Linked DNA regions of Homo sapiens. The protein of the gene in region 4 purifies or fractionates together with the protein of the main gene of each other region. This does not show direct contact. Each region holds a gene or a part of one and is shown on either strand. Other genes may lie near its edges. The genes, in order: ANP32A, ALDH18A1, PDHA1, ARHGAP39, SDHA, COBL and PRDX4.

Region 1 (4,040 bases), on a different chromosome or scaffold from region 4:
GCAGTACCTGCAGCTGTCAGTGAGGAAGGACAAATTTCCAACTGGAGAGAATACAGGATAAGAATGCCCAGCGCCCAAGTTTGACTAAGTCAATACTTCATGGCTAAACAGGAGAGCAACAGGACACCAGAAACTGAGCAGTGACTAGAGCCGTAGAAGATATACCAGAGAAAGGGAGAGCATCTATCATAAAGTCAAGAATGCTGAATCCCAGCCGGGCGCAGTGGCTCACGCCTGTAATCCCAGCACTTTGGGAGGCCGAGGCAGGCAGATCACTTGAGGTCAGGAGTTCGAGATCAGCCTAGCCAACATGGTGAAACCCCTTCTCTACTAAAAATAAAAAAGTTATCCGGGCGTGGTGGTGGACACCTGTAATCCCAGCTACTCGGGAGGCTGAGGCACGAGAATCGCTTGAACCCAGGAGGTCGAGGTTGCAGTGAGCTGAGATCAAGCCACTGCGCACTCCAACATGGGCCACAGAGTGAGACTCTGTCTGGGAAAAAAAAAAAAAAAAAAGAATGCTGAATCCCGCCACTGAGACATCATGCAAGATAAGAAATGAAGGCTGTTGGGATTCTTGGCACTATTTAGGAAGCAAACCAGACTTCACGTGGTGGAGTAAGAGAGGTGACAGGATGGAGAAGATAGACAATTCAGAAAGTTTAGGGAGTAGGGAGAAGAGTGGGATGGGCAGTAACTACAGCGCAACACGGGATCAATTAGAGTCTTTGCTTTAAGATGGGAGAAGCATCCCCAGCTGGAGAAGAATCCAAAGGACAGGAGTGGCTAGGTGCCCAGGAGGAACAAGGGAACTGAGGGAGGGATGGACAAGACAAGAAGACCACTGAACTGGGAGGGATTAAGGCAGGTTCAGCCTCACAACTACTTAAGAAACCAGGAGGTTTCCATTTTCTGTGAAGAGGACGTCCTGGCCGGGAGGGAAGGGGTGGAGGCCTGAAATAGCTGCTGAGGGCAGTAAGAAAAAGAGTTGCCCAGAAGAGGGACGAGTCACTTACCCTCAGTAGAAACTACCTAGAGTCCAATGTCAGGACTGTAGTGAATTCCTAGTGGGAAAAAGTAACTCCTGGTAACTTTGAATCTCTAGCTTCTAAACCTCCTTTCCCATTGAAAGAAAATGGTTACTTTTGTATGTAATGTGTCTGCGGATAATGTAAGTTGGGTTTTTTTGAGACCGAGTTTCGCTCGTTGCCCAGGCTGGAATGCAGTGGCACGATATCGGCTCACACTGCAACCTCCGTCTCCCAGGTTCAAGCGATTCTCCTGCCTCAGCCTCCAGAGTAGCTGGAATTACAGGCACCTGCCACGACACCCGGCTGATTTTTTTTTTTGTATTTTTAGTAGAGACAAGGCCAGCCTGTTCTTGAACTCCTGGCCTCAGGTGCTCTGCCTGTCTTGGCCTCCCAAAGTGCTGGAAGTACAGGCGTGAGCCACTGCGCCTGGCCCTAAGTTGTTTTTTTTTTTTTTAAGTGAATGCCAGGTATGGTATTCTAGCTATGGTGTTCTAACGGCAACAACAGCTAACATTTCTTGAGAGCTTACTGTGTGCCAGACAGTGCGGCAGGCACTATTACAACCTCATTTTGCGGAGACAAAAAGGGAAGGTGCCCTGAGAGGGGCGTGCCCAAGTGCCACAGTTGGAAGTGGCGGAAGCAGGACATACCCCCACGCAGTCTATGTGGGGGAAACCAGGTGCACTGTCCTCTCTCCACAATCTTCCCTGACCCAGCATGCAAAGTGTGCAATGCACTGAAGGATGGGGCCCTGGGTGACAAGAGTGTGGAGAAGGGGCTGGGGGAACATGGCTGATGGGGGGCCACTGGCACCAGGAACGTTGGAAGGCACCCGTCTGGGGTAGGAGCCTAGGATTGAGTCCTTATGCTGAGAAGGTTGGAGGGGAGAGAAGCAAGACATAAGGAGAGCAGCTGGAGAAGATGGGATGGGCTGGTTTAAAACAGAAGTCATGATTGACCCTCAGTGGAGAGGCCTCACAAAGGTACCAAGGGCATCCTCTCATTCCCCCAAACAAAACTACAAGTATTGAGTATAAAGAAACCTTAATATTCATCTTTTAATGGCTTTCAAACATTAACAAATAATGAAACTAATTTGTAGGTCCAAGCCAGTCAGTTTTCTTTTTAATGAATAAAAGTGTTTTACATGTAGTGAGGGAGGAGCATGGTGTCGGTTTTTCACAAAACACAGGAATGCGTGTACATACCAGGGAGTGGAGTAAAATGTATTTCTCACTACTAGGAGCAGAAAGTTCGAAAGCCACTGATCTAATTCAACACTCCCATTTTAGAATTTCAGAATGGAGAAAACAGAGGCTCAAAGAAGCCAAACAACTTGTCCAACTTACTTAATAGCAAAGCCGAGAAGAGCATCCAAGTCTTTAATAGTTCTCTGGTAATTTCCTCACCAAACCAGAATCTCCAAATGTAAATACCTCTGGGAAAAACAGTGCTGACTTTAATCCACATTAGAGTAAATAACAGTGGAGTAGTAAGTAAGCTGATCTTTTAGATCTGCTGCCTGGAGCAAGTTTTGGTAAAGGAAACAGTAGCTGAATGAATTCAGGGGGCAGCTGTGGAGCTAAAACAAAATAAATCTGAGGGAAAGCACTGGGTTGCAGGGTGTGGCCCAGCAGGCCCAGGACAGGGCTTGGTGTGGTAGAATAAAGGGACTTTTATCTTCCTTAGAGTCTGTATATCATCAGGACAACTAGTTCTAGACAAGGAGGCTGCTTCCATGTCTGAGAAGGTGGCTCAGGGCCATGGTGCTTTGCTCATCTAGTTTCAACAAATTTTATTAAATGAGAAGTTCTGAATAACAGATGCCTTCACAAATCTCTGTCCCTGCCAGACTCCATCTCTTTAATGAAAACATCATTGTTGGGTATTTATCATTTGTTGTATAATTCTATTTCAAAGCTATAGAAGATTCAGAGTCAGGTCCATGTTTCTCTACTTGAAGGCAGTGGTGCTGGGGGACTGGGAGAGGGTAGTTCCTAGGAGACCAGAGAACTAGCTAGAGTAAGGGATGGACTGCCAAAACAAAGAGGAGGGATGCTGGTGGCAAACATTTCTAAAGGAATGCCTCTCTAGACACCAGAGCTATGAGCCTCCTCTTAAACTAAGTTAGAATTCAGGCCAGACAATTGGGCCACGTTCATTGGGCCAGGGCCCAATCACCAACAAGCTCCCGGCTCCTTTCCTAAGTGACTGCACCAAAATAGCAAAGGCATGAGATGTCTAAAGAGTATCCTACACAATTTCCAGGAAGTTTTTTTTTTTTTTTTTTTGAGACGGAGTCTCGCTTTGTCCCCCAGGCCGGAGTGCAGTGGCACGATCTCTGCTCACTGCAAGTTCTGCCTCCCGGGTTCACGGCATTCTCCTGCCTCAGCCTCCCGAATAGCTGGGACCACAGGCACCCGCCACCATGCCCGGCTAATTTTTTGTATTTTTACTAGAGACGGGGTTTCACCGTGTTAGCCAGGATGGTCTTGATCTCCTGACCTCGTGATCCACCCGCCTCGGCCTCCCAAAGTGCTGGGATTACAGGCGTGAGCCACTGCACCCAGCCTCCAGGAAGTTTTTTATTTCAATGTGATGTAATTAATTTGGACCCAAGCTCTGGGATGGACAGCTCTGAAAGCTCAAGCAGATGTCTTTCCAATGGTATTGAAGAAGGGGGCCAGGCACGCTGGCTCACACCTGTAATCCCAGCGCTTTGGGATGCCAAGGTGGGCAGATCACTTGAGTCCAGGAGTTTGAGACCAGCCTGGGCAACACGGCAAAACCCCGTCTCTACAAAAATTATAAAATAAATAAATAAAAAAGGAAACAAGTCTCATACTGCTATGGGGAAAGAAAAAAAAAAAGAAAGATGGCCAACTGTGTAAGTCTAGAGTAAGCCACCTTGAGAGGCTGGTGGTGCAGCAGCAGCAGGAAAGAGGGAATTGGGGCTGTGGTGTGCTGTCATAACACAGGCTGCTGTTATGGGGACTAGGATTTGTCCCC
Region 2 (4,040 bases), on a different chromosome or scaffold from region 4:
GGAGTGCAGTGGCACGATAACAGCTCACTGCAGCCTGGAACTCCCAGCTCCAAGTGAACCTTCTGCTTCAGCCCCGAGTAGCTGGAACCGCAGGCGCATACCACCATGTCCAGCTGACTTTTCTATTTTTTGTAGAAACAGGGACTCACTATATTACCCAGGTTGATCTTGAATTCCTGGGCTCAAGTGATCCTCCCGCTTTGGCCTCCCAAAGTGTTGGGATTATAGGTGTGAGCCACCACGCCAGGACAGAATTGTAAACTTCAAATAAGTGAATTGTATGGTATGTGAATTACATCTCCATAAAGCTGTTATTTAAGGAAAACAACTGAAAGCACCTGGAAGTAACATTTCAGGATTCAAATGACATCTCTTAGACTCACCCACCCTGTTTTGAGTCATAAAAGCCCTTTGTCAGAACATATGGCTAATGATCTATAGCAAAAAAACATCAGAGGGACTCAAAGAAAGAGGGAAACTCATGTGCTCACATATGTAGCATTTAAAACAAAGGGCAGATAAAGGAAAAAAGCATTACTTTGTACCTTCTACATCTGAAAGAACAATCAAGAGATCAGTTTTCATTTCCACAGCCAGTCGGGCAGCCAGGCTATCATTATCTTTAACACTAATAACCTAGAATGCAGATTAAAAAGTCATAAGTGAGTGAGCTAAGCAGTCCAAAAAGAAATTCATGGAAGAACACAGCCAAGCTCAGGCAAAACCAAGCTAGGATCAGGCAAAACCAATGAACCCAAATATGTAGATGACGGCTCTTGCAGGCCCCTTCTGTCTGCAGAACACACTGTCTACTGGCAATCCTTTTTCCAAACATGCAGTCTTCTAGCCACTGAAATATACAAGCCATGCTCATCGCACCATCTTCAGTGACTATAGCACCTCACCCTGTTGAATGCAACCACGAGTTCAGAAGAGCTTATGCAGTCACTGCTCCATGACAAGTTTCTCTCACAACTTTTCCATCTTGTTTATGCCAAACTTCTGGTGTTAGTGCATGCAGCATAGCATGGTGTTAGTGTCTCCAGCATGCTAAACCCTTAGAAATACTTTACCCACATTTACCCCCTGCAGGTCACTGTTGGGCTCAGCTGGGGGGACAACAGCATCATTTGTGTTGACAATGGGGACAATGTTCATTCTAAGGAGTTCATGAAGTGTTCCATTGAGGTTCCGGCGCTTCTGCTCATCATGGAAATCCAAATTGGTCACCAAAATCTAAAAGGATTAAATAGATGGAAAATGCATGAGGGAGAAAAACGCTAAACTTCCCAGTATACAAAAGACGCTAAGAGCAGGGGAGTTAAACTTTAGGTTTCTGGGGCCCCACACAGATTAGAAGATTAGAATGAAATACACATATCTGGGTGCTATCCAATTCTTTTTTTTTTTTTTTTTTTTTTGAGACAGGGTCTCATTCTGTCGCTCAGGCCGTAATGCAGTGGCATAATGTCTGCTCACTGCAACCTCCACCTCCTGGGTTCAAGCAGTTCTCATGCCTCAGCTTTCCAAGTAGCTAGGATTACAGGCACACGCAGCTAATTTTTGTATTTTTAGTAGAGACAGGGTTTCGCCATGTTGGCCAGGCTGGTCTCAAACTCCTGGCCTCAAGTGATGGGATTACAGGTGTGATCCACTGCACCTGGCCCCAATTTTTGTAGAGATAAAAAAAATTACAATAATCTGAAAGATTTATTTAAGAATGTTCAAGACTTCTTGCAAAAGTACTTTAATCCTCAAAGAGCTACCAAATTCCAAAATCTCATCCATTTACAAAATTAAGAAAATTAATGTATCTATTTTAGAGGGATACTGGGGGAATCAGTGATTATCCATTAATTTCTTTTCTTTTTTTATAGAGAGGGTCTTACTCTGTTGTCCACGCTGGACTTGAACTCCTACTCTCAAGTGATCCTCCCACCTCAGCCTCCTGAGTAACTGGGACTAAAGATGCACACCGCTGTGCCCCAGCAATTTCTAAAATATCTCTGTATTCTAGGATCTGATTCAGGGCCTGGCCATAGTAGGCCCTTAAATATTTGGTGAGTGAGTGAAAGTGTATTAGACAAAATGGAATAGGGCTGTGTTGTCACTGCTCTTGCTCTAAAGCAGACTATTACTGGAGTTAACTAAGATTGTGTGTGAGCATGTGGGGTTAGTCTGAGAAATTTATGGAAGTTAGTCTTTGGTCACAAGCTGAAAGGGGGGCAGAACACAACTTGGTTCAAGGGAGGAGATGAGCATAAGGTGCTCAAAGGTAGAATGGAGAGCTGGTGTGTGGGCTGGTAAACAGCTCTGCTTTCTAGCTTAAATCAGAATTTTATGCAATGTTTAGGAGAAAAAGATAAATGGGTGAATGGAGATAGCAAGAAACTAAATGGCAACAAACCTTGAGGCTCAACAATAAATAATGCAATCTCTCTAATGTTTACGGAAGAGCGTTCTTGCTGTGTAGGGCAGGATGAGGTAGGGAAAGCTGGAAGCAAATAGTAAAGAAAGCAGGCACTGAAACAGTCAAAGTGAGGATGGTTAAGGGTCTGGCTATGGTAACTGAGAAGAATATAGCAATAAAACAGTAGCCTTAATGGTATATAAAACACAGGAAACATACATATAGAAAAATAATTCACTCACTCGATAAAAAATTTGTTGAGTACCTCTGAAATGCCAGAGTCTAGCTGCTGGAATGGAGAATAAGAATGTTGATGTCTTGGGGAAAAATAAAATGGAGCATATTTTTGAAAGGGAAGATCATGAACTCCTTTTCAGAAAAGCTTAGTGCTGTTGGACACAGGACTAGGTCCAAACTGAACATATAGATTCTAGTCACGATGGTGAAAGATCAAACAATTAATATAAACCCGTGTGTAGGAGAGACAAGCAGGAGATCTAAAGGTCCAGGAAAAATACCTGTCACCAAAATAGCTTCACAAACATGGCCTGGGGATCTCAGCATGAAGGTAGGAGATAAAGAGTCCCAAGAGGGAAAAGTACGTGTTTAGACAAGCGCAATCTGTTGAGGGAAAATCAGTTTCCCTTCTATGAAGAAAAAACAAGCTGTTTTAAGTGTTTAAGTCTTTAACCTGGCAAACCACCTACTGGAAATTTTCAAAAGCCACTGACAATGGTCTTCTATATAGGATTACTGAAGAAAATAAGGAACCACAGGAAAAGGTACAAAGGGCAAATATTTTCTGTAGATATGATGGCCTTGGGGGAAGACACAGGTGTGAGAGGAAAGAGCCCAGGGGTTGAAGCTTGTTGGGAACTGGAGGGGGCAGGGCTCTTCTTTCACTCAATGTAAATGGAAACAATGGCTGATGCTGCATGGACTCTTAATGCTACCATCATTCAAAACAAAATAAAACAAAAACAAACTCTCAAAAGGTTTCATCCCTGGGAAAAACCAAACCAAAGCAAAACCATAGCTCCCTGACTTGAGCTTCCTCACCTGGCTCCAGGCACTTTAAAAAAATTAAAGACCAAAGTTGTCATTGGACTGTGAAGAGAAACCAAATAATAAAGAAGAGTGATATAAATAGAGATTTATACTGTATTTATACTAACAGAAAAAAAGCTAAGACTACAGAAAGTGGGGTCCCCAGCCATAGGCAATGGGACAAGTCCGTGCCTTTCTGTTTTACCTCACTGACTTGAGGACACTCTGGTGTAATACCAGAACATCACTGTGGGTACAAACAGGCAAATGATGGAGAAACAAAAAAAAGTAACAGGAAATGAAGAAGCAAAACCTGAAACAATATATGTATATATAACAATATCACCTGTGTAAAATAACATCTGTGCATGTAGTGTACATGTAAAATAATATCCATAATATAAAATAACAGCTATTTTACATCTTTACAGGTAAAGGAATTTCAAAATAAAATAATTTGGGAGTTAGATTTTTTTTTCAGTTGTTTCCTGAAGTGACTGTTATTGAGATGTCTCTAGTGTGTAGTTGTACAGTTGATTAAGAATATAATTCAAAAAAATTCAGGAGATTTAGGTAAAAATGA
Region 3 (3,997 bases), on a different chromosome or scaffold from region 4:
TTCAAGAGTTAAAAAATAAAACCTGGCCGGGCGTGGTGGCTCACGCCTGTAATCCCAGCACTTTGGGCAGATCACGAGGTCCACAGATCGAGACCATCCTGGACAAGATGGTGAAACCCCGTCTCTACTAAAAATACAAAAAATGGTTGGGCATGGTGGCACGTAACTATATTCCCAGCTACTCGGGAGGCTGAGGCAGGAGAATTGCTTGAACCCGGGGGTGGAGGTTGCAGTGAGCTGAGATTACACCACTGCTCCAGCCTGGGCGGCTGAGCAAGACTCCATTTCAAAAGGAAAAATAAAACCTAGGTTTAAAAAAAAACAACACATAATAGAATCTTAATATATTAGAAAGGAAAAGAAACAGTCCGGATATAATTTTGTGCTGTTAATTCTTCATCATTCACTAACTGATGAGAACAAGGACCCCAAAATGAAGTTGACAAGATAAAGCAATTAATGTACTGAAATATAAATAGGAAGGGGAAGGTATGGCTCCACTGCTAGAGGTTCCTGCTTACTTATAAAACAGCAGACACCTAAAAGGAAACATTATAAATCACCATCCAAATCTACTCATCTCTCAAACGGTAGGATATGAAGCACTAGGTCTTTAAAAGCAAACCAAGCCCCCAAAATAGTCACGCGTCACTTAACAACAGGGATATATTCTCAGAATTGCATCACTAGGCGATTTTGTCATGTGAACACCATACTGTAATGCACGAACCTAGATGGTACAGCCCACTGCACACCTAGGCTGTATAGTAGAGCCTACTGCTCCTAGGCTACAACCCTGCACAGCATGTGACTCTACTGAATCCTGTAGGCAAAATATTTGTGTACCTAAACGTAGAAAAGGTAATGTGTTGTGCCACTACAACATCACTAGGCGACAGGAATTTTTCAGCTCCATTATAATCTTATGGGTCCAACATCATATATGCGACATTGACCAAAGCGTCACTGTGCAGCACATGGCTGTACTACTTCAGGAAAAGTTGTCTGGGGCTGTGAAAGTTTTTGAAGACAAAGTCCAGGGCCAAATCTAAAGCAGCACACAATCCTCGTCCTTGACTACCTGCGCTCCCACGATGCCATTGCCCCCGTAGAAGTTCTTGGCATACATGTGCATCGATCCTCCTTTCCCTTTAGCACAACCTCCTTTTCGTCCTGGAAATGGCAGAACATACACATGTGCAGAACAAACCAACTCTACAAAGCAAACCAAACCGCACCCCAAATATGTACTCTGAGGCTCAACCATTAGAACACAGAGGCCAGTTCAGTCGTCTAAGTACCTGTCCCTCCAGGCAAACACATGTTTCTCCTTGTCCTTTCACTAGTTCCATGTGCTTCAACCTTTCCAGCTTTTCCTACTCTCTAGTCACTTAGTTTCCTTCAGATGTTCCATCCAGATGATACCCTGGACTTTTCTGGGTTTTCTGGCCAGTTACAAACATCTTAGGACCTCTCCTATACTAGTACACTAAATATATTCAATCCTTGAACAGGGTTTGAACTGCACAGGTACACTTATACACAGATTTTTTTTCAGCCACACATGTATTGAAAATAGAATATTCTCAGGATGCAAACCCGAAGATATGGAAGGCTGACTTTGGGACTTGAGTATTTGAGGATTTTTGTATACTCGAGGGTCCTAGAACCAATCCCCTGGATATATAGAGGGACAACCATAGTTCAAGAGTCAAGGAGGGCCGGGCACGGCGGCTCACGCCTGTAATCCTAACATTTTGGGAGGCCGAAGAGGGTGGATCACCTGAGGTCAAGAGTTCAAGACCAGCCTGGCCAACATGGTGAAACCTGGTCTCTACTAAAAATACAGAAATTAGCCAGGTGTGGTGGTTGGGCACCTATAATCCTAGCTACTCAGGAGGCTGAGGCAGGAGAATTGCTTGAACCCGGGGGGCGGAGGCTGCAGTGAGCCAAAATCATACCACTTCACTCCAGCCACTCCAGCCTGGGTGAAAGAGTGAAACTCTGTCTCAAAAAAAAAAAAAAAAAAGGAGGAGGAGGAGGACCGGGCACAGTGGCTCACGCCTGTAATCCTAGCATTTTGGGAGGCTGAGGCAGGCCACTGCACTCCAGCCTGGGCAACAAAGCGAGACTCTGTCTCAAAAAAACAAAACAGGCCAGGTGCGGTGGCTCACGCCTGTAACCCCAGCACACTTTGGGAGGCCAAGGCAGGTGGATCACCTGAGGTCAGGAGTTGGAGACCAGCCTGGCCAACATGTTGAAACCCCATCTCTACTAAAAATACAAAAATTAGCCAGGTGTGGTGGTGCATGCCTGTAGTCCCAGCTACTCAGGAGGTGGAGGCATGAGAATCACTTGAACCCGGGAGGTGGAGGTTGCAGTGAGCCGTGATCACACCACTGCACACCAGCCTGGACAACGGAGTGAGACACAGTCTCAAAAAAAAAAAAAAAAAAAAACCACCAAAACAAACAAATAGTCACGGGGGACAAAGAAAAGGGGAATATTAAGAAGATTTCTAGAATTTACATTGCATACCATGGAGTGCTTCAACCGAACTTACTTTCTATGACTGCTAGACTTCTTCTGGCATGCTTGAATGATAACCAAACCTACTGTGATTTTATAGCACCAACCTGTTTTAAACTTTTACCTGAGGGGCCAGAGAACTTCACAAATGGTCAGTTAACTCAAGAGCACAACAGAAGTACCAGAGCACCAAAGGAGAGAGGGTTAAAAAAAGAAACTTAAAATTTTTAACAAATATTAACTCATAATAGCATCTTAATGACAGATATTTAAAAACTTAATCCACTCATTTCCCCTTTCTGTAAATCAACAGCAAACCTGTAAGCTCTGCGAGAATTTCTCGGACGGAAAGGCCCCGGGTGAAAGTAAAGCCGTGAGCCCGGTAGGCTGTGATGAGATGGTCTGTGGGGTTGATGCCGGCCTCCAGGCCCACACAGCAAGCTTCCTGTGTTAGAGGAAGGAGAAACTATGAGGCAATATGATACATGTTTCTAAATAAAAACGTTTCCTAGACCACAGTGAAATATGTGGGCTAGTAGAACCTGTCATTAATAACCAGAGAAAGTAGCTATTTTCCACCAAAATACAGAGTGGAAGGCCCAAACCAGAAGCAATAAACTGGCAACCCACACATGTGCCACTTCCTTCCTTTCTCCTGTATGATGACCTAAAAGAAAAGCCTACATCAGATGTCAACATTAAAACACTGGGGAATTTCACATGAAAATCCAGACTTCCGCCTTCTCTTAGACATGGAAAACAGGAAACATTACCCCTGATTTCCACATGGCACCAACTGGCTGGAACCAAGTCATGGCATTCCTCTGGGTAGGGCATGCTGGTGCCAGTTCAGCATGAGTCCCTGTCACCATTTTCTGTTTTGTATACCTAGCCTTCTTCACTCATTTATTCTACCTGGCTGGCCCTTGTAGGTATTTGACTCTAACCCTTGACCTAAGCCCACAAAACAAAAAACAAACTAATCCTTTCTCTCCAAATTATATACAGTACAGGCGATCATAGTGCCAGAAAGTTTTAAAATAGTAAAACTCTAAGAACAGGTACAGAAAACTGGCAATGTTATGTGTGAATGAATTCTTTAGCCTAAGCTTCATAGCAGGTTTTGGCATTCTACTTTTTAATTCTAAAATACTGGCTTCAGCCAGGCACAGTGGCTCACGCCTGTAATCCTAGCACCTTGGGAGGCCAAGGTGGGCGGACCACTTGAGCCCAGAAGTTTGAGACTAGCCTGGGCAACATAGTGAAACCCCGTATCTCCAAAAAATACAAAAATTAGCTGGGTGTGTTGGTGTGCACCTGTGGTCCCACATACTCGGGAGGCTGAGGTGGGAGGATTGCTTGAGCCCAGTGGACAGAGGCTGCAGTGAGCCAAGATCACACTGTACTCTAACCAGAGGCTGCAGTGAGCCAAGATCACCACTGTACTCTAACCTGGGCGACAGAGAGA
Region 4 (4,040 bases):
CCCTCCAGACCCCGACCCAGTGTGGAGGTGGCGGTCCAGTTGCAGCGGAGGGGCTACTGAGCAGGTGTGCAGTGATGACTCGCAGGCCTGTGCCACGATCCTGCAGGACGGAGCAGTGGGCAGTGAGGTTGTGGCCTGGGTGCCTGTGAGGACAGGAGCCTGCAACCACAGCCAGTATGTCCCTACCCCACGTGGGGCCCAGGACCCCCCAAAGGGCTGCACCACCCTGAGGCGCTGGCGGCTCCGGGGGCTTCCCCGGTTGCGGGTGCTCAGGAGCACAGCAGTCAGGGGCGGACTGGGCTTGGGTTTGCTTTCCTCTATGACAGGATTTCTGGGTTTCGCAGCTGGGGCTGGAGCCGGGGTCTGCAGGGGTGGGAGGCGCGGGCCCAGGCCGCCGTGGCTCCAGCCGCCTTAACCCTGTCTCTCCCCAGGTTGGAGTGGGTGGAGATCATCGAACCGCGCACCCGCGAGCGCATGTACGCCAACCTGGTCACCGGTGAGTGCGTGTGGGACCCGCCGGCCGGCGTCCGCATCAAGCGCACCAGCGAGAACCAGTGGTGGGAGCTGTTCGACCCCAACACGTCCCGCTTCTACTACTACAATGCCAGCACGCAGCGCACGGTGTGGCACCGGCCGCAGGGCTGCGACATCATCCCGCTGGCCAAGCTGCAGACGCTGAAGCAGAACACGGAGTCCCCGCGCGCCTCGGCGGAGAGCAGCCCCGGGCGCGGCAGCAGCGTCAGCCGTGAGGGCAGCACCAGCTCCTCCCTGGAGCCCGAGCCCGACACTGAGAAAGCGCAGGAGTTGCCAGCGAGGGCCGGGCGGCCCGCGGCGTTTGGGACAGTGAAGGAGGACAGCGGCAGGTGAGGGCGGGGGCAGCTGCTATGGGCGGGGCCAGGTGAATGGAGTGGGCGGGGCCAGGTGAGGCAGGTAGGGGGTGGTGGGCGGGGCCAGGTGAGAGCGGGACTGGTGAAGGTGGTGGGCGGGGCCAGGTTAGGAGTAGGTCGGGTATGGTGGGCGGGGCCAGGTGAGTGGAATGGGCGGGGCCACGTGAGAGCGGGACTGGTGACGGTGGTGGGCGGGGCCAGGTGAGGAGTAGGTCAGGTATGGTGGGCAGGGCCAGGTGAGGGCGGTGGGCGGGGACCCAGGGGACTCAGTGTCCCCGCGAGTGGCCAGAGCCTCGTCCTTGGCTGTAGCAGCCACCGCTGCTGTCCCCAGTGAGCACTTTCTTGTCTCTCTGGGCAGCAGAGCCTGGCGCTCAGCCTCAGAGGGTTCTGGGTCCTCCAACCCTGCCCCTCACTGGCCCAGCCCCTGGCAGGTGGTGGTTCCTGAGAGCAGTGTCTGAGGGGCTCGCCCAGCTCTCTCTGCTGATGGGAGATGCAGATGTGGGGATTTGCGTGCGGGCGTGGGGTGTGTGGACCTAGGGGGACCCAGGTGGAGGGTGTAGATCAGTGTGGACACAGCTGAGGGGTCTGAGCAGGCTTGGAGGTGGTCCTCTGGAGTCACAGTGGCTCCGAAGGAGCACAGCCTGTGTTGGTGGGAGCCCAGGAGACCCCTGCCCTCAGAAACAGGGAGAGGTCAGGGTAGAGCGCAAGGGCCTCGAGGTGAGTGCACCGTGGGAAGCGAGTCCAGAGAGGACGGTGGGGAAGAGCCGAGGCAGGCGGGCAGGACAGTGGGGAAGGGCTGAGGCAGGCGGCAGGCCAGCAGGACAGTGGGGAAGAGCCGAGGCAGGGACAGGAGGCTGGGGCTTCCCAGAGCCCAGGCTGTGGCCCAGGGCAGACAGGCCTGGCCACTGCAGGGGCGGATGGAGGCCACTCTGGAGAGGATGGAGGAGAGGCTGGACCCCAGGGAGAGAAAGGCAGGGGATTGGTCTCCCCCAGTACCAGATTTTCGGTGCTTGGCTGAGGTTGCCAGGGGAGCTGAGGCCCAGGGGCTTTCTGCAGAGGTGGGAAGGAGCGTGTTGGACTGCCGGGCTCATCTGAGGCTTCAGAAGAGGGATTCAGAGTGAACCACAGAGCTCAGAGGACAGCAGGCTTCCGTCCCACCGTGCCGAGGTGCAGGCACAGAGGGAGGCGGGCAGCAGGTTCATCCCGTGGACCCGGTCTGGCAGGATGAAAGGGAGGCCAGGGATGGGGCCTGCTGCAGAGTGGGCAGGAGGTGGGGCAAATCAGGTGTGGAGGAGCCACTGGAGCACACCGGGAAGACGGTGTTGGTGTCGGTATTCAGGGCAGGGTGAGCAGCGGAGGCTCGGGCGTGGCGTGGGTGAGCGAGCGGTGCAGAAGGCGGGCACAAAGAGGACCAGGGCCTACATTTCACATCCCACCAGCAAATATGAGGGTTCAAAGTTATCCACGGCCTTGCCAACACTACTTGCTTTCCTTTTTAGATTTCTTTTAGCTATTGTAGCCACTGTGAAATGTCTCATTGTAGTTTTGGTTTGCATTTCCTTAATGACTAATGACTTTGAGCCTTTTTTCACTTTCTTTTTTTTTTTTTTTTTTTTTTTTGAGACAGAGTCTCGCTCTGTCGCCCAGGCTGGAGTGCAGTGGCACGATTGCTGCTCACTGCAAGTTCCGCCTCCCGGGTTCACACCACTCTCCTGCCTCAGCCTCCCGAGTAGCTGGGACTACAGGCACCTGCCACCACGCCCAGCTAATTTTTTGTGTTTTTAGTAGAAACAGGGTTTCACCATGTTAGCCAGGATGGTCTTGATCTCCTGACCTCGTGATCCACCCACCTCCCAAAGTGCTGGGATTACAGGCATGAGCCACCACGCCTGGCCCCTTTTTTCACTTTCTTGATGGTATCATTTGAAAAACAAAGGTTTTTGTTGTTTTTGTTTTGTTTGTTTGTTTGTTTGTTTTTGAGACAGGGTCTCTCTTTGTCTCTGGGGCTGGAGTGCAGTGGTGCAATCTCACTGCAGCCCTCACCTCCCGGGCCCAGTGACCTCCCACCTCAGACCCCCAAGTATCTGGGACTGCAGGCACGTGCCACCACACCAGGCTAATTTTTGTATTTTTTTTGTAGAGATTGGGGTTTCACTATGTTGCCCAGGCTGGTCTCCAACTCCTGAGCCCAGGCAGTATGCCCACCTATGCCTACCAAAGCACTGGGATTACAGACATGAGCCAAAGTACATGAGCCAAAGTGTGCATGGCCAAAGTACAAAGTTTTTAATTTTGGCCAAGAAAAGTGGCACACGCCTGTAATCCCAGCACTTTTCAAGGCCAAGGAAGGCAGGAGTTTGAGGCCAGGAGTTTGAGACCAGCTTGTCCAACGTGGCAGAACCCTGTCTCTACTAAAAGTACCAAAATTAGCTGGGAGTGGTTGTTCACACCTGTAATCCCAGCTACTCGGGTGGCTGAGGCAGGAGAATCACTTGAAGCCAGGAGGTGGAGGTTGCAGTGAGCCGAGATCGCACCACTGTACCCCAGCCTGGGTGACAGAGCAAGACTTTGTCTCAAAAACAAACAAACAAAAATTGACCTGTCATAGATTTGGGTTCATTTCTGGCCTCTCAATTGATTTGCATTGATCCATATCCCAGTACCACATTGTTTTGATCACTGTAGCTTTGTAATAAGTTTTGAAACTGGAAAGTGTGAGTCTTCCAGCTTTATTCTAATTTTTCAAGGTTGTTTTGGCTATTTGGAGCACCTTGCAATTCCACAAGAATTTGGGGATTGGCTTTTTCATTTCTTTTAACAACAACAAAAAAAAAGCTTTTGGAATTTTGGATCTGTGTGGGGGATTGTGTTGGATCTGTAAGCTGATATTTCATCCAAGCAATATTAATTTTCTAATCCATGAACAGAGGATGTCTTTTCATTTGCTTATGTCTGATTTTTCTTAGCAGTGTTTTATATTTTCTAGTTTACAGTCCTTTCACCTCCCTGGTAAAGTTTCTTCCTAGATATGTTATTCTTTTTGATGCTGTTGTAAGTGGAATTTTTTGTTTGTTTGTTTCTGGATTGTCCATTGTGGTGTATGGAAACATAACTGATTGTGTGTTGATCTTGTATTGTGCAACTTTGCTGAAT
Region 5 (4,040 bases), on a different chromosome or scaffold from region 4:
ATACAGTACTTTCTTGAAGGAAACATCTATCTTTTCCTGTAAGATCTAAAGAGACAACTGCGAGGTGGGCCCCGTCGTCCCAGCCTTCTTTCCAGCTGTGGGGGAGGAGCCAGCACCATCACCTGCCCCTTGTAGTTGGTGGGAATGCCGCCCATGTTATAATGCACGGTGGGGAGGACAGGGATCGGCTCCTTCGTGACGTCCACGCCAGCGAAGATCATGGCTGTCTCTGAAATGCCAGGCAGGCGCGTGGCCAGCTGCTCTGGAGGTAGGTGGTGCAGCTGCAGGTAGACGTGATCTTTCTCAGGGCCACAGCCTCTGGTAAGACAGAACACCATCACATACGGCAGAGAACGGCAACGGCAGGAGACCTGAGAATACGTCATCTTGGAAGTGTGTGAGTTTCAACATGTTTTGATACTGAGGAAAATTTCCCCTCATGTATGGTCACCCTCTCATCAAATCTTTTCTAAGCAGCTACTGTGTGCCAGGGACAATCCCAGGTGCTGGGACACAGCTGAGAACCAGAACAAAAACTCTGCCCTCACTAAACTCACGCTCGTCTCAGGGATCACAGCCTGCTGCAGGTGTCCTTGGTAAGTGCATTAGAAAGGCCTCTATGCCAAATACAGTCGTCCCTGCGTATCCGTGGCAGGTTGGGTCCAGGACCCCCACGGATACCAAAATCCGTGGATGCTCAAGTCCCTAATATAAAATGGGAGAGTATTTGCATATAACCTATGCACATCCTCCTCTATACTTTAAATCATCCTCATTTCAAGTTTTACGTTTAAGTTTTACAGCAACTCCAGGATGACTCATAGTACCTAATACAATGTAAATGCTACGTAAATAGCTGTTACACTGTATTGTTAAGGGAACAATGACAAGGAAAAAAAGTCTGCATATTTGTAAGGATGCAATTTTATTTTCAATACATAGTTGGCTGAAACCACACATGTGGAACCAATGGGTACGGAGGGCCACCATATTCCAAAAAACCATTTGACTTCTCTGTTTTTTTTTTTTTTTTTTTTTTTTTTGAGACAGAGTGTTGCTCTGTCGCCCAGGCTGGAGTGCAGTGGTGTGATCTCAGCTCACTGCAAGCTCCGCCTCCCAGGTTCACGCCATTCTCCTGCCTCAGCCTCCCGAGTAGCTGGGACTACAGGCACCTGCCATCACGCCCGGCTAATTTTTTGTATTTTTAGTAGAGACGGGGTTTCACCGTGTTAGCCAGGATGGTCTCGATCTCCTGACCTCCTGATCTGCCCGCTTCAGCCTCCCAAAGTGCTGGGATTACAGGCGTGAGCCACTGCGCCCCACCTGACTTCTCTGTTTTTTTAATATAAAAATGTAAAACCTCTAAAGGCCATACCAGCAGATATTTAGCAAATGTCATTACATTAAAGAACAGGGTCAGGCAATGAAAGAGCTGCAAACTGTTTTACTGAAAGCCAAATAACCCACACACTTTGAAAGCTGCCAAAAAACATCTGTGGGTATCAGACACAACACCCAAGGCTCACATGCCGACTTCAGGTTGGGTGTGTGTCTCTCTCTCCCATACTCCGTCACATACTCACACACACTAAGAGAAACTCTGTTCCACAGATTTGAGAAAGAAACTGGCTAAAATTTTCAAAATGTAGGTCTTTAGGAAAATATCGCAGACTAACAGACGCCTGCCAGCAGCTAAGAGAGGTGGCTGTGCACATGCGCCTGCACACGAAGGTGAGGGCGAGCGGTGCTGAAACTCACAGAAGCAACCCCGGCCCGTGTGCCCGCTCAGACAGTGCTGGTGGTAAATCACACGCACCTTCCTTCTCGGATCTCCAGAGTCATGGACCGAGACACCACATCTCTAGACGCCAGGTCCTTCGCGACAGGGGCGTATCGCTCCATAAACCTTTCGCCTTGACTGTTAATGAGAATGCCTCCCTCTCCACGACATCCTTCCGTAATGAGACAACCAGCACCATATATGCCTGCAAAAAACCACACATATTTATTACCTAACAATTGCTAGATCTCTATTTCAAATGCATTATTTTTTTCAAGACATTTTTTGGGGGAAAGAGGAAAAAGATAAGCAGAAGGCATTATGTGCAAAACTGCACAGCAAGACAGTTAAGATACAGTAGAAAGTCTGGATAACAAAAAGCACTGACAAGGCTGACAGCTGCAGCAGAGGCTGGGGCAGAGCGGTGTCCCCAGAGAGGAGAAAGGCCGGCCCACAGACCTCTGGCCAATACTCTGATTACAGCCCAGTGTACGTTGGATGCCTCAAATTTTGTTTTAATTTTTGAACATTCTTTTGCACTATGATACTGTGGTGACTAGTTAAGAATACTAGCTTGAAGTATTCATATCTAAATTATCCAAACAGTGACAAGGACAGTAATAATGATTATTTTAGATAATATTTACACTGCACTTGCTATGGGCAGTTCTAGCTGCTTTCCACATATTAACTCGTTTAAGTCTTACAACAACTCTGGGTAGTACGACCCCCTTTCTCAGTGACAAGCAAATTAACACTTGGTAACATCCAGTCATGCAGCTGAGGACAGAGCTCAAACCCAAACCTGGGTAGTCCGGCGGTCTGTGCTCCAAACAGCGGCTCTGTGACTCCTCAGTGCGATGAGAAACAGGGCATGCCAAGCTCTCGAATTTTAACAAAGGAGATCAAAAACCCTAAACTAAATGTATTTCGAAAGCTACAATTTTTATTAGTATACAAAAAGGGCAATCTTGCTTTTAAAAAACGAATGTGATTCTTGTCTGTCTTTTGATTTTCTAAGTTTCAATGCTCTTTTTTCTGTGGTTACTTCTCACATACTGAAGACAAAGCATGAGCAGTGGAGCTCTAAGCAAATTACAGAGGGAATTCAGGGGCTCAGTGACATTTTATTCATTAAAAACAGTAATAAAAAATACAACAGGCCGGGTGCAGTGGCTCATGGCTATAATCCCAGGACCCTGAGGGGCCGAGGCAGGAGGATGGCCTAAGCCCTGGAGTTTGAGACCAGCCTGGGCAAAACGGTGACATCCCGTCTCTACCAAAAACGAAAAAACCCTCGAAAATTAGCTGGGCATGGTAACACATGCCTGTAGTCCCAGCTGTTTGGGAGGCTGAGGTGGAAGGATCGTTTGAGCCTGGGAGACAAAGGCTGCAGTGAGTCAAGATTGCTCCACTGCACTCCAGCCTGAGCAACAGAGCAAGACCCCATCTCGAAACAAATAAAAAAAAAACACTACAACAAATTCATTTCTTATTTTCATCCCTTCCAGGGATCAGAAAGCTGACACTGACAGAGAAAGAGAAGACACAGGTCTGGTTCTTTGGCACCACTTCAGAGGTCTCCATCGTCCACAGGTCAGAAAAGCAACCCAGAAAAGTATAGGACAAGTCACCTCAAACAAGAGGCAGGTGTGTGTCTGTCTCTGACTCATTCTGAAGAACCTCCTCCAAACTCAAGACTTCAACTGTCATTTCTGAGTTAATGTCTCCGAATTGCACATTCGTAACCTCAACCGTCAGACGTCCCCAAGACGAGCTCATCTTCCCCACGACAAGCTCTCTCAGTGGTCACGTGGGCTGAGCCCAGCGCCCAATGTCACATGGGGTTCTGTCACGGCTGCGTCCTAACTTTACATCCCATTGTCACAGAAGCTCCGTGTTCTCCTACAAAGCTGAAGTCTGCCTGTGCTGCTTCTCGGTTCCATGGCATTCTCCCAGCTCTCAGAATGTTCACTCAGTAAACCCCGGTGGAGACCCTACCATGTGCTGGGCATGGAGCACCACAGCTAACGAGAAGACCTGCCTGCCCGAGGAGCTGACGACCTCGTTGCGAAGAGGGACACTGAACAATCCCTGCTTTACTTTTTTTTTTTTTTTTTTTGAGACGGAGTCTTACTCTGTTGCCCAGGCTGGAGTGCAGTGGCGCGATCTCGGCTCACTGCAACCTCTGCCTCCCAGGTTCAAGCATTCCTCCCACCTCAGCCTCCCAAGTACCTGGGATTACAGGTACACGCCATCA
Region 6 (4,040 bases), on a different chromosome or scaffold from region 4:
GGTCTGTGTACACACTGTATATGTTTCATATATGTGTGTATATAGTACATATATACAGTATATATGTATTTATATATATATATATCTATGTACATATATAGATATTCCTGTATTTATGTGGATATTTTGACTCCTTAAAACTTTGATGTCATGTTTTTGGAGGGTTTTTCTTTAAATTATTCATACTGCTTCCAAACTTTTTTTTTTAGAAAATGCATATAAGTGCCATGTGTTCACATCTGGCCAGAACCCTTGGAAGACAGTAAAGTATATGTGTTGGATTTTAAATGTAGAGTCTTCCCTGATGTTTATTTCGCTGTGTTGTTAGCAGCTTGTTCACTAGCAAGAGATTCTAAACCAGATTTATTATTCTAGACATTTGTTTTTCAATATTCATTATGCTGTTTTCCCCCATTACTCACTCAATTTGTGGAAGAAGGATTCAGGCTACACACAATCCTGCCACACCCAATTGTCAAATTGACACAAGAGTTGAAGGCTTGTGGGAGGATATCTTACTGAATTCTTTTTGCCTGTGTGTTCTTCCAGAAATCTGTGCGTTTGGTCGTGAATTACCTGCGGACACAAAAAGCTGTTGTGCGTGTGAGCCCTGAGGTTCCTCTCCAGAATATTCTCCCAGTCATTTGTGCAAAGTGTGAGGTCAGCCCAGAGCACGTGGTTCTCCTCAGGGACAACATTGCCGGAGAGGAGCTGGAGCTGTCCAAGTCCCTGAACGAGCTCGGGATAAAGGAGCTCTACGCGTGGGACAACAGAAGAGGTGAGGCCCCGCTGCGTCTCACGCACCTGCCCATAATCACACGGATGCGCGGCGTGTACATGTCCCCTGTTGGCTCTCCCCAGCACTCTCAGTAGCGCCAGGGAGAGATGGGTACATGAAGTTCCAGGCAAGTCAAGTTGAAGTAGGCAAAAAAGAAATCTGGCCTGTTTTCATTCCTCTGGATTGAGCTGTGCCTCCTTTCTCCCAGCCCTGAACATGTCCTTTATCCTTTGTCTCCCTGCAAACTTCCACGACATAAGTAAAAGGGGAAAAGGTGAGGTGAGATTAGAGCTTATGCTCTGAAGTAACTACTCCAAACCATCTATAATACTTTCTTGTGGGTTGGTGGCTCACACTTGTAATCCTGGCACTTTGAGAGGCTGAGGCAGGAGAATGGCTTGAGCTCAGGAGTTCAAGACCAGCCTGGACAAAATAGTGAGACCCCGTCTCTACAAAAAAATTTTAAAATTAGCCAGACGTGGTGGTGCATCCCCATTCCTGTAGTCCCATCTACTGGAGAGGCTGAGGCTGGAGGATTGGTTGAACCCAGGAGGTTGAAGCTGCACTGAGCTATGATTGCACCATTGCCCTCAGCCTAGGTGACAGAGTGAGACCCTGTCTCTTTAAAAAAAAAATTATCTTGATTTTCTTTTTCAGTTGCCATTAACTGCTGTTCCCAGGTTTCAAACATTGCTCATGTCTAAAACCAGTGGCAGAAATTCATTTAGCTGTTCTCTAAAACTGAACAATTACAGTGCGTGAGATCCATTCCTGAAGATAACTTTAGGGCCACCTTAGGCCTCCTCACTGTGTTGCCAGTGTCATCCTGCTTGCTCATCATGTGAAACTGGCTTTTAGTATGAGGCCACAGTTAGAGCCACTGGTGAGAGTGGCAGCCCAGAGGCCTTGCTGGTGCAGAGACTGTTATGTTGTGTAAGCACATGTTTCTGATTGATATAGAGTGCTAACTGCTACTGTCAGGCCAAAGGAAATGTTATATTCCTTGACCTTAGAATGATCAAAATGGACTTCGTAAAAGTTTCTCTTCTAATAAGCCTCATTTGATGTCTGTTGTCTCTGTTTCATTATTCCACAAATATTGAATAGGTTGAGTTTAAAAAATATATACATATTCAAGTTTTTCCTGTTTTTCTATGACTTTTTTTTCTAATTTTTTCCAACAAAAATGTATTTTTTCTCTTTTTTTTATTTTTTGAGATGGAATTTCACTCTTATAGCCCAGGCTGTAGTGCAATGGTGCAATATCGGCTCACTGCAACCTCCACCTCCCAGGTTCAAGTGATTCTCCTGCCTCAGCCTCCTGAGTAGCTGGGATTACAGGCACCTCCCACCATGCCCGGCTAATTTTTGTGTTTTTAGTAGAGACGGGGTTTCACCACGTTGGCCAGGCTGGTCTCGAACTCCTGACCTCAGGTGATCCGCCTGCCTTGGCCTCCCAAAATGCTGGGATTACAGGCCTGAGCCACTGCGCCTGGCCATATTTTTTCTTAATACCAAGTTTATTGTGAAATCCATGATCATAGTGGAATCTCTGTCCAGCCTTCCTCTCCCCGCCAAGTCCGCCCTTGTCTTCCTGGGTATCTGGCATCTAGATCTGATTTGACATTCAAGAGAGGGTTTTGGCTCAGTTGAGTATAAGATACATGGACTGTTTATTTCTTCAAAAAAAGTACTCTGACATTTGAGAATAATGCATCTTGTGTTTTATCCAGTGTCTTTTTTAAAACACAGACAGAAATAGTCTCAGTATTGCTGCAAAGGCCTGGTGGCACTGAGTATATCAGCACTATTTAAATTTGGTTTACATGACTCTTTGGAAACAGCTTCCATTTGTTAAGATAAAAAGAAAAATAAAGGGAAAACTGTTTCACGTTCAGGTATCTGAAATAAAAAGGCTTACAAGTGTTTCTGTTACATGCTACCACTTGGATGTATCTTGAAAGGTAGATGTTGAACCTGGCACTTGGGAGAAGTGATATAAAACCTGCCTGTCTGTGAAGGAGAGGACCCAGGATAGCCCATGGTCATTGGGAATGTAGGAGCTGAAGTGTTCATGTGGTCAGGGGCCCAGAGCATCTCTTCTGATCCTCATATGGGACAGAGCAGAACAAGCCGGTGCGGTCAGCTTGGCCGTTCAGATTTGGAAGCACTTCTGCCCTTGGTTGGAACTAGCTGCTCCCAAACCTCCAAGTCCCCCTCTCTACTCCTTTGGACATTTTGGCCCTTTCCACCCCACCCCCAAGGCACCACGAGCTTCCCCACCATGGGGGCTCTGCTCCAGCCTTGTGGCCAGCACCCCTTTCGTCTGGACCATGCCTGTGCCATGCCAGCTGTGACATTTGATTACCGTCCCTGCCAAATGCCTGCCTCCTGCTCACTGTCAAATATTCGAAAAGAAAAGACACTTGTCCAGAGGCCATCTCCGAGGCTCCCTTTCTCCCCTACAACCGCCCTGGGCAGGCCTGCTGGGTACTGCTGGAGGAGCCCTTACTTTCAATCCTCTTGGTAGGCACTTGGAGGGGACAGACGTCCACTCCTGAGCCCTACCACTGCTGGAGAACAGAAGGGCAGCTGGCAGGAGGTGAGGCATTGCTACGCAGAGGCCTGCCCTCCCCTGGAATCCCCGGTGGGAGCATCTTGATAAAGCCAAGGGCTCTGCTGCCACCTGCGTCCTCAGCGGTGCTTAGCAGGCTATGCAGCTGTGGCCCTGAGAGGGCCAGCCCAGAGAGGCAAGCTGACCCAGCAAGAGACCTTCTCACTGCTGCAGCAGGACAGCCCCCCTCTGAGGCTTGTGAGGGCCAAGGCCTGGGTCAGGGACTCCCACACATCTCAAAGCTGGACCTCACTCTCTCATTGCCTGCCTTTTCCAGTTCGTCTGAGCAAAACTCAGTCCGAGCCTTCCCTGAGCTGTCAAGGTACAGTGAACCTGGGGCTTCCCGCTCCCGCTGTGAGGCTGCACTATGCATGGCTCTGGGGTCAGAGCTGCACAGAGGTGATGTTTTTGTGCCAGACTCCAAGGAATGGAAGTTTGGCTTGGGGCCCTCCTGAAGGTGCATGCGAGGCTGACATGAGATTTTGGTTTGGTTTCTTGATTCCCTGGTTGGTTCAGATAAGAATGCTTCTTAGGAGAATTTGCTGTGTGGCTCTAATTGATGAGAAATGAGGGAGGCTGTTACAGAAAACAAATTCTGTTGCCCAATAATTCAGGGCAGATCAGAAGTGGTGTGCGCAGGAAAGGCAC
Region 7 (4,040 bases), on a different chromosome or scaffold from region 4:
TAGGGGAAACATGGAGTGACTGCTAATGGGTATGGGGTTTTTTGGAGCATGAAAACATTCTAAAATTGTGGTGATGGTTGCACAACTCTGTGAATACACAAAAACCACTGAAATGTATTCTTTATTTATTTATTTTTTTTTGAGACGGAGTCTCGCTGTCGCCCAGGCTGAAGTGCAGTGGCGCGATCTCGGCTCACTGCAGACTCCGCCCCCCAGGGTTCACGCCATTCTCCTGCCTCAGCTTCCCGAGTAGCTGGGACTACAGGCACCCGCCACCACGCCCGGCTAATTTTTTCTATTTTTTTTAGTAGAGATGGGGTTTCACCGTGTTAGCCAGGATGGTCTCGATCTCCTGACCTCGTGATCCGCCTGCCTTGGCCTCCCAAAGTGCTGGGATTACAGGCGTGAGCCACTGCGCCCGGCTATGTATTCTTTATTTTTAATTTTAATTATTTTTTTAGAGACAGGGTCTCACTCTTGTTACCCAGGCGAGAGTGCAGTGGTGTGATCATAGATCATTGCAACCTTGAACTTCCAGGCTCTAGCGATCCTCTTATCTCAGCCTCTTGAGTAGGCTGGGACTACAGGAATGTGCCACCACAATGGCCTAATTTAACAAAAAAAAATTATTTTTTTTTTTTTGTAGAAGACAAGGGTCTTGTTATGTTGCCCAGACTAGTCTCAAACTCCTGGGCTCAAGGGATCCTCCCACCTAGGTCTCCCAAAGAGCTGGGATTACAGGCATGAACTACCATGCCCAGCTGAATTGTATTCTTTAAATGGGTATTGTATTATATGTGAACTATATTCCAATAAAGTTGTTATAAAAAAACACAGGATTATAAAATACTGACACTTTCACATAAAACATTCAAGAAAAACTATTGGCACTACAAAGCAAATCAATACAACCAAATTACAACTGTTCCACACTAAAATTGCCCCCTTTTCAAAGAATTCTATTAATGTTTGTTAGCTCAAGTAACCCAGTGAGAGCGTCTGGGTAAAATATTTCCTTAATTTTTCCTACTCCAAAGACACAGGTTTGCTAAGTAGTATGACACTTGTATTTAGAAAAAAACATTACTGGAGTCAGGTTGCAAAAAAGGAAAAAGAAATGGACAAGGAGTTGGGGGACCTGGATTTAAGTCTGGGCTCTGCAATTAAATTATTATATAACTTTGGCTAAGATCACGGAACTCTATGAATCTGTCTCTTTTATCTGTAAGATGACAGGGTGGGTGAAAGACCTCTAAATAATCTTCCAGCTCTAAAAGTCTATGATGCTAACATAGTTTAATCAGGGTAATATAAACTAACGGTTTAAGTTTAGTAGTTTAAAGACTAATAGAACAAAGTAACATTTTTCTTTCTTTCTTTTTTTCTTTTTGAGACGGAGTCTTGCTCTGTCGCCTGGGCTGGAGTGCGGTGGCGTGATCTCGCCTCACCGCAACCTCCGCCTCCTGGGTTCGAGCGATTCTCCTGCCTCAGCCTCCCGAGTAGCTGGGACTACAAGCGTATGCCACTATGCCCAGCTAATTTTTGTATTTTTTAGTAAAGATGGGGTTTCACCATGTTGGTTGGCCAGGATAGTCTCGATATCTTGACATCATGATCTGCCCCCCTCGGCCTCCCAAAGTGCTGGGATTATAGGCGTGAGCCACCATGCCCAGCCAATTATTTCTTTTTTTTTTTTTTCACTCTGTCGCCCAGGCTGGAGTGCAGTGGCATGATCTGGGCTCACTGAAACCTCCGCCTCCCAGGTTCAAGCAATTCTCCCACCTCAGCCTCCCGAGTAGCTGGGACTACAGGCATACGCCACCATGCCTGGGTAATTTTTATATTTTTTGGTAGAGACAGGGTTTCACCATGTTGGCCAGGCTGGTCTCAAACTCCTGACCTCAAGTAATCTGCCCACCGTGGCCTCCCAAAGTGCCAGGATTACAGGCTTGAGCTACCGTGCCTGGCCTCAAAATTATATTTCTTGATCAAAATTTGTTCTTCTATTTCATAAATAACATCTATTTCAAGGAGGATTATAAACACGCTTGGATTTGTCATAATATAAAACCACTGAAAGGTACCTAAGAGTGTGGCCTGAGTCCTCTAGGTATACACCATAGTCCTTTGAGATCTGATGGGTCAAATCTGAAAGAAGTGGAATCCTTATTGGCCCAAGTCCTCCTTGTCTTCGAGGGGTATTAATCCTGTAACAAACAGAACGCTTACCTCTCAGAGCTAAGTAAACGGCATATATTAAAACAGCACTCTTTCTCTATACATGCACACGCACACACATGAAATACACACATTCTTTCACTAACAAAAACAGGCTAATATACTTTCTATTTTCTTGCTTTTCCCATTTAATATATTCATATCCTTTAAACATTAAAAATATATATACACAACACATTTTTATTTTATGTTTTTGAGACAGGGTCTTGCTCTGTCTCCCAGGCTGCAGGGCAGTGACGTGATCATAGCTCAGCGTAGCCTAAAACTTCTAGGCTCAAGCGATCCTCTTGCCTCAGCCCCCTGAGAAGCTGGGACTACAGGTGTGCACCATCCCACTGGGCTAATGTTTTAAACACTTTTTTGTAGAGATGGGGTGTGGCTTTGTTACCCAGGCTGGTCTCGAACTCCTGGCTTCAAGCAATCCTCCTGCTTCACCCTCCCAAAGTGCTGGGATTATAGCCGTGAGCCATTGTGCTCAGCCTACAACACATTTTTGTTTTTTCTGAGACGGAGTCTTGCTCTGTCGCCCAGGCTGGAGTGCAGCAGCGTGATCTCGGTTCACTGCAACCTCTGCCTCCCAGGTTCAAGCGATTCTCCTGCCTCAGCTTCCCAAGTAGCTGGGATTACAGGCATGTGCCACCACACCTGGCTGATTTTTGCATTTTTAGTAGAGTCAGGGATTTACCATGTTGGCCAGGCTGGTCTCGAACTCCTGACCTCAGGTGATCCACCCGGCTTGGCCTCCCAAAGTACTGGGATTACAGGCGTGAGCCACCGCGCCTGGCCTATAACACATTTTTAATGTATGGATACACAGATACTCCTTGACTTAAGATGGGGTTGTTTCTTTCTTTCTTTTTTTTTTTTGAGATGGAGTCTTGCTCTGTCACCCAGGCTGGAGTGCAATGGCACGATCTTGGCTTACTGCAACCTCTGCCTCCCAGGTTCAAGTGATTCTGCTGCCTCAACCTTGTAAGTAGCTGGGATTACAGGCACCCGCCACCACGCCCAGCTATTTTTCGTATTTTTAATAGAGATGGGGTTTCGCCACGTTGGCCAGGCTGGTCTCAAACACTTGACCTCAGGTGATCCGCCCACCTTGGCCTCCCAAAGTGCTGGGATTACAGGCCACTGTGCCCGGCTGGGGCTGTGTCTTGATAAACACATCATAAATTGAAAATATCATTAGCTAAAAATGTATTTACTATCCCATAAACCCACTGTAAAGTTGAAAAATTATACGTCAAACCATCGTAAGTCAGGAACATCTTTACTGTATTTTACTTAATTCCATGATGAAGATTTAAACCATTTACCTTTTTTTTTTGCTTTATAAACACTGCTGAAAACATCCTTGTATTCTTACTTTTATACACTTGTCTAATTGATTTCTGAAAGTGAAACTGATAGATCAAAAGATACGTAGTATCAAAAGCATAACCTTAGTAGTGTGATCATAAGATAAAGCCTTGAACAGACAGGCAGGATACAAATGGATGACATTTTAATATTCTGAGAGACAAATGCAAAGTCCACTTGAAGCAGTGAAGGAAGTGAGTTATAATATCAGATGCCTCAGTCTTCACTACAGGTTGAGTATCCCTTATCGGAAGTGCTTGGGACCAGAAGTGTTTTGGATTTAGGATTTTTTCCGATTTTGGTATATCTGCATACTTACTGGTTGAACATCCCTAATCTGAACTCTGAAATGCTTCACTAAGCATTTCCTTTGAGCATCATGTCAGCACTCAAATTTTGAATTTTGGAACACTGTGGATTTCAGGTTAGGGACGCTCAATCTG

The links.
Region 1: the proteins of ARHGAP39 (region 4) and ANP32A purify together in Homo sapiens (affinity purification with mass spectrometry, with the first as the bait; one large-scale study listed by BioGRID). This does not show direct contact.
Region 2: the proteins of ARHGAP39 (region 4) and ALDH18A1 purify together in Homo sapiens (affinity purification with mass spectrometry, with the first as the bait; one large-scale study listed by BioGRID). This does not show direct contact.
Region 3: the proteins of ARHGAP39 (region 4) and PDHA1 purify together in Homo sapiens (affinity purification with mass spectrometry, with the first as the bait; one large-scale study listed by BioGRID). This does not show direct contact.
Region 5: the proteins of ARHGAP39 (region 4) and SDHA purify together in Homo sapiens (affinity purification with mass spectrometry; one large-scale study listed by BioGRID and IntAct). This does not show direct contact.
Region 6: the proteins of ARHGAP39 (region 4) and COBL purify together in Homo sapiens (affinity purification with mass spectrometry; one large-scale study listed by BioGRID and IntAct). This does not show direct contact.
Region 7: the proteins of ARHGAP39 (region 4) and PRDX4 purify together in Homo sapiens (affinity purification with mass spectrometry, with the first as the bait; one large-scale study listed by BioGRID). This does not show direct contact.

What each region holds. Positions count from the first base shown.
Region 1 is NC_000015.10:68,810,566-68,814,605, forward strand, and holds part of ANP32A (acidic leucine-rich nuclear phosphoprotein 32 family member A), read right to left. Parts: intron 1-4,040. UniProt on the Homo sapiens protein: Multifunctional protein that is involved in the regulation of many processes including tumor suppression, apoptosis, cell cycle progression or transcription. Promotes apoptosis by favouring the activation of caspase-9/CASP9 and allowing apoptosome formation.
Region 2 is NC_000010.11:95,632,414-95,636,453, forward strand, and holds part of ALDH18A1 (delta-1-pyrroline-5-carboxylate synthase), read right to left. Parts: intron 1,237-4,040; coding exon 1,078-1,236; intron 637-1,077; coding exon 546-636; intron 1-545. UniProt on the Homo sapiens protein: Bifunctional enzyme that converts glutamate to glutamate 5-semialdehyde, an intermediate in the biosynthesis of proline, ornithine and arginine.
Region 3 is NC_000023.11:19,350,258-19,354,254, reverse strand, and holds part of PDHA1 (pyruvate dehydrogenase E1 component subunit alpha, somatic form, mitochondrial isoform 1 precursor), read right to left. Parts: intron 2,996-3,997; coding exon of another isoform or gene 2,975-2,995; coding exon 2,848-2,974; intron 1,174-2,847; coding exon 1,082-1,173; intron 1-1,081. UniProt on the Homo sapiens protein: The pyruvate dehydrogenase complex catalyzes the overall conversion of pyruvate to acetyl-CoA and CO(2), and thereby links the glycolytic pathway to the tricarboxylic cycle.
Region 4 is NC_000008.11:144,577,669-144,581,708, reverse strand, and holds part of ARHGAP39 (rho GTPase-activating protein 39), read left to right. Parts: intron 1-431; coding exon 432-863; intron 864-3,628; exon of another isoform or gene 3,629-4,040.
Region 5 is NC_000005.10:231,422-235,461, reverse strand, and holds part of SDHA (succinate dehydrogenase [ubiquinone] flavoprotein subunit, mitochondrial), read right to left. Parts: intron 1,986-4,040; coding exon 1,817-1,985; intron 319-1,816; coding exon 123-318; intron 1-122. UniProt on the Homo sapiens protein: Flavoprotein (FP) subunit of succinate dehydrogenase (SDH) that is involved in complex II of the mitochondrial electron transport chain and is responsible for transferring electrons from succinate to ubiquinone (coenzyme Q).
Region 6 is NC_000007.14:51,187,588-51,191,627, reverse strand, and holds part of COBL (protein cordon-bleu), read left to right. Parts: intron 1-549; coding exon 550-778; intron 779-3,669; coding exon of another isoform or gene 3,670-3,714; intron 3,715-4,040.
Region 7 is NC_000023.11:23,677,332-23,681,371, reverse strand, and holds part of PRDX4 (peroxiredoxin-4 precursor), read right to left. Parts: intron 2,208-4,040; coding exon 2,085-2,207; intron 1-2,084. UniProt on the Homo sapiens protein: Thiol-specific peroxidase that catalyzes the reduction of hydrogen peroxide and organic hydroperoxides to water and alcohols, respectively.